Regions from separate parts of the Homo sapiens genome. Here region 2 is linked to region 1. The links come from fine-mapping of genetic effects on gene expression. Tissue or cell type: substantia nigra. Region 1 holds a variant in brackets; the other region holds the start of a gene. All regions are shown on one strand. Distances are between the middles of the regions.

The links. PIP is the estimated chance that this variant, and not a neighbour inherited with it, causes the effect.
Region 2: it holds the start of LINC01763, and the variant in region 1 is fine-mapped to the expression of LINC01763 in substantia nigra (GTEx, PIP above 0.99).

What each region holds. Positions count from the first base shown.
Region 1 is chr1:89,892,796-89,895,481 of GRCh38, forward strand. All of the region lies in intron 2 of LRRC8D (leucine rich repeat containing 8 VRAC subunit D), which reads left to right. Among named protein-coding and RNA genes, the nearest start is that of LRRC8D-DT, 72 kb to the left of the region's middle. RefSeq lists a silencer at 1,435-1,729. The variant G/A (reference allele first, on the strand shown) is at 1,235.
Region 2 is chr1:90,850,711-90,853,396 of GRCh38, forward strand. LINC01763 (long intergenic non-protein coding RNA 1763) reads left to right here and starts at 1,049. Exons shown (of 2, transcript NR_146610.1): 1 at 1,049-1,569. LINC02609 (long intergenic non-protein coding RNA 2609) reads right to left here and starts at 928. Exons shown (of 3, transcript NR_135038.1): 1 at 773-928. RefSeq lists an enhancer at 1-473 and silencers at 257-376, 667-1,066.

The sequences.
Region 1 (2,686 bases):
AGGCGTGAGCCACTGTGCCTGGCCGTAGATTGATATTTCTGTCAAATTCACAAGGTTATTATATGTAACTTTGTTAAAACTTTCTTGAAATCAAGTAAAATTCAATCAGACAAAGTTTATTTGAAATTACATGTCCTCAGCTTTCAGTTGACATGTGGTTAATTTGTTCATTCATTCATTTATTTATTTATTAAACAGATAATCTATAAACATCTATATGACAGGTACTGTCCTAGGTGCTGAGAATAGAGTGTGAACAAAATAGACAGGATCTCAGCTTGTGGATCCATAAGCAACCAAAAACATAAACAAGATAATATAAAATAGCTGTAAAAGCTATGAAGAAATGAAATGAGATGGGGACTAATCAGGAAAGGCCTCAATGAAGAGGTGCCAGCTGAGCTAGGGCAGGAGTGTTGAGAAGAAGGGAACAATGAGAAGATCTGGGGAATGAACAGTCCTGCAGAGGGATGAGCACGTGCAGAGGTCCTGAGATACAGGTGAGCTTGGCATATTCAAAGAACTGAAGGGCAGCCAGTGGGCGAAAACATGGTTATAGCTTTCAGTTACTTGAAAAATATTCGTTATCACTTTTTTCCTAGAAAGCATCTAACTTCATGCTTAAAATTTGACTTTATTTGCTCATTTAACTAGGAAAAAAAAGGTAGACCAGAATTGCAAGGGAATTAGCATATTTCCCCAGGAACAAAGTATTCTGAAAACAAAACAACAGAAAATACTGGAAATTATGCATTTTCAAGATTGATAAGAATGCTCTTGTTTTCCCAAGCATACATTTTTTCCCTGAAGTAGATACAGTGGAACCCATCTATATTGTAATGGGACATACGTTATTGTTCTGAATGCTTTAATATCTAGTATTTTAGAATGTCTTTTATACTGGATAGTAGTGTAAAATGCCTTGAGACATGCAGTTGGTTTTTAGACTTAAGACCTCTTGATGATTGCAGACTTACTCTTTTTTCAGTAGAGCATAGTGGAAACTAAAGAGTTTTTTAGATGAATATCTGGAGTAATTTAATTACCATTTTAATTGTTCTGTATTTGCAGATAATTGGTGATGTGAGTTTTTGACTGACTTGAGATTAAAATGTGCTAAACCCTTACCTGATAACTCTCATTAGAGCAATATATGCTGGAAGCAGAGGGCTCTTGTTATGGACTAAGTGTTTATGTCCCCCACAAAGTGTTGAAATCCTAACCCCAGTGTAAT[G/A]GTATTAGGAGGTAGGGCCTTTGGAAAGTAATTAGGGCATGAGGGCTCTGCCCTCATGGATGGGATTCATGCTGTTATAAAAGGGACCCCAGAGAGTTCTCCTGCCCTTTTCTCACCATGTGAGGATAGACAGGGAAGTCAGCTGTCTGCAATCTGGAAGAAGGCCCTCACCAAACTCGGCTGTGTTGGTACCCTGATCTTAGATTTCCAGATTCCAGAACTGTGAGGAATAAATGTTTGTCATTTAAGGCACCCAGCCTGTGTAATCTGTAATAGCAGTTCAGACTAAGACAGCCCCATATTACTCACTCTCCATCTGAGAGTGAGCCGAGCACATAGCATTCTTGGCATCAGTAGCACAAGGGTATGAAGGGAAATGCTTGAAGATAACTGGAATGTATAGTAGAAATGTGATTCCTGTTTATCTCTGAGTGTTAACTTTCAGAACATAGGAAATTGAGATGCTCCCTTAAACATTCTTTTAGATAGCAATTTAGGGAGGCAAGCTGAACTTAAATCTTTTAGGAAATTGGACAGAGTCATAGCCCATTGGGTTTAGAGGTAGTATAAGAAAGGTTGCTGACATTATTTGGCTAAAGTGAATGGAGAACAGAGTAAACCAAGAAGATAGTGTTCATGTACATCATCAGCACAATACTGAGTAAGCTGAAATATAGAAAAATAATGTATGCTTACTATTATTGGAATGTGAGTGACATAAGTAAATTTCATAAAGGGAATATAAGTCACCACTCAAATAGTTGTTTCTTTCCTTTCCTTAAGATACAAGTGTTCCATATCTTACGGGTGAGTACAATATTGGCTGATGTGATACGGAAAATTCTGTCAAGTTCGGAGACAGCCATAGTGTTGAAAGTTCTGAGTGCTTTCAACACTATCAAATAGTGCTCATATTCTTTCATTGTCAGATTCCATGACCCAAGTGTGTCTGTAGGTGAAGGTCTCCCACCCCCACCCCACCCACTGATCACTCAGTAAGCAAGCAGGCTGATGTCTCAGTGCCTACAGTGAGCAGTGTTAACTGACTCCTGTACTTGCTTGTCTGAGGACAGACAGGTGTGCTAGATAATTAACATTTTTTGGAAACAAAATTATTACATTATCCTAAAAATAAATCAACATACTGGGAACACATGCAGGACTTTTGTATTACTACGCAAGAAAAGATAAGCCTACTATATTCATATAATATATTATGAAGTCTGTTAGATGACCTTAAATTTGTTCATTTTTCTTATTTGACAAGAGTTTTAAATCCCTATGTATTTACAGATTTGGCAGACTTGGTATGTTTTCTTCAAGCTATCATAAACAAGCAAATGGCTCAGAAAAATTCCCAGCTAGGTAATTTTATCTCAAATATCTGCTTAATTTCAAAGGCAACTTGAGTTAGCCCTGTGCAAACTCAAAACACTGTGTGTAAATATATGT
Region 2 (2,686 bases), 960 kb after region 1:
TTTGGGCACCGGGGGTGGGGGCTACGCTACGCGTGAAGGGCCTCAGTCCTCGGGCTTTAGTTCAGGAAGAAAATGAAAGCTGGAGGTCTCGTGGGCGGGACTGGAGGCGGCCAGATAGGCAAGAACCCGCAACAGGAGTAGGGACATTTTTTCTTCAAATTCCAATCCCATCCAGCGATAGACAGGCGCGTGGGTCTCCCTCCTCCACGACCACCACACAATGGCACACACTTTTGCTGGAAACTGAAATCGAAGTCTCTGAGGCAGGCTGGGGCCCAGGCCGGCAGCGGGGAGGGGCAGGGTCCAGCCACCTCGGCGTGGCCTTGGCGAGCGCTCCGGGGTCAGAGGCCGTCGTTCTCGCCGCGCTCCACAGCGCGTCACCCGCTGCCCTAGCGACCCCCGGGCGACCCCGGCATCGCCTGGCTGCGCCGTCCCGGCGGGCCGGCCCTCTCCACGCCCTCTCCTGGGGTTTGCGGTGGGCACAGCTCCCTCCAGACTGGGTCTCTCCACTAGCCTCCTCCCCAACTGCAACGTGGGAACCAGAGCTATCCGAGTCACGAGCCCCAAGTGCACACAAAGCCCCCAACGGGGCCACGGCGCCTCCACGCCTCGCTACCTCCAGCTCCAGGAGCGCAGAACGCAGCGCCCTGGGTCACCGCGTCTGCCCTGCGGAGCAGCCCCACTGAGGGGAAGCCTCGGGCAGGAGGTGAGACCCCGCGCACGCAAGCACCCCCGCCCCAAGCAGGGCCCTCTGCCCGAGGGAGACTCTCACCTCAAATAAACGGGCGCTGCCGCCTCCAGGGGGAGGACAGCGGGCGGAGAATACTCACGCTGGGCCCAGCCGCGCGGGGACTTCGCTGGGAACCACGCGCGGGCTCCCGCCGGGGAGCGGAGCCCCAGCCTGCAGTCCTGCGCCCGCCCCAGCACCGCCTCCTCGGAAGGGAGGCCTCTACCGTCCGGCGGCGGACCTGCAGCCGCCGCGGGAGACGCTGCCCCGCCCCCCGGCCCCGCCCTTCGGCCCATCCCCGCCCCGCTGGCCTCCTTTTCCCCTGCCCCCTCCCTCCGCTCCTCAACGCCCGCCGGGTGCAATCTGCTCTCTCCGGGAGACGAACGCGAAGCGACGTGGAAACCCTTCCACCAAAATGAGCTGTGATATCCTTTTGATGGCTATAATTTATTCCAAATCGTCCCTGGACTGAAACGATCAATTAGCAGCCCGAAACGCACTGTGAAGTAAATTGTCACACTCTCTATTACAGGATGGTTATCATATATTTATAAGGTGTGTTTTCTGCAATCAGAACCAACAAGGTGTTGAGCGATCAGTCATAAACGCACTTCTTCAAAAAGAGAGGGAGAGAAGCTCAGCATTGTGTGGCGGGGGAATAATCCTCATGACAGTTCTCTCCCCACCCAGTGATGTTTTGTCTTGGCACCTGGGAAGTGCAGTGAGGGCTGGAGCTCTGGACGGACTCTCTTCGCCACGCGTGCCCCTGGAAGCAGGGTCCCTGTGAACTACGGAGAGACCCCAGAGGAGAGATTTCCTTATTGTGTAAACACAAATCAGTCGTAAGGGCCGCTCCCTCTGTCTTTCTCTGTCTTCTCTTGTATCCACGAAAATAATATCTTACTCTTTGCTTCTAAGCTTCTAATAGAATGTTTGCATCCTACACTTAATGATAAGTATTTTTTCTTCTTCCTCAGGTCTCAAGGTGTTGACCTCCTCTCTTGTTATTTAATTGATGATGTTCGGTAGAAATTATGTCTGGGTGATATGAAGTTTACCCACAGAGAGAACCCTGCTTTCTGAATTGAAATCCTCAGCAGAACTCTTCCATCATTCATAAATGAGATAGCCCAAAGTTCTAAGAAAGTAATAAGAAAGGGCGATTTAGGCCAGGCGCCGTGGCTCACGCCTGTAATCCCAGCACTTTGGGAGGCCAAGGCGGGCGGATCACTTGAGGTCAGGAGTTCAAGACCAGCCTGGTCAACATGGTGAAACCCCGTCTCTACTAAAAATATAAAAGAGTAGCCGGGCATGGTGGTGCATGCCTGTGATCCCAGATATTCGGGAGGCTGGGGCAGGAGAATCTCTTGAGCGGGGGAGATGGAGGTTGCAGTGAGCTGAGATCATGCCACTGCACTGCACTCCAGCCTGGGTGACAGAGTGAGACTCTGTCTCAAAAAAAAAAAAAAAAAAAAAAATACTGATTCAGCCTGGTAGCTATTTTGACTGGACCAGGCCATGGAGACATTGTTATTTTCCTTCTCAGTGGTCAGGAATATACATCTGGAACTTCTGAGTTTTTCCCCTTACAAACTTTCATCAGATAGTCATCCATGAACCACCTATCAATCATTTTTTAGAAGGGTTCTAGTTTGCATCCAAGTGATATTCCTTTTGCCTGAAAAACATAGCTTTAGAGCCTAGACTACTGGTTATTGATTGTGAAAAAAATTTAGCAGCTAGAATTATGCCTTTGTAGTAATAAAGTGACATTCATGCAGAGTGAATCACAAGGTGTGAAGGTAAGATGCAGAATTTATACCACATTCTTCTTAGGTTAAGTGCCCCCATGACTTTTGCATGGGAGGGCTTATCTGCAATGCCAACCCTTGAAGAATGGGGAGAAAGGAAATCTCGTTGGGTATTTGAGCTGTGGAGGCAGCTGTTGCCATTGGGCTT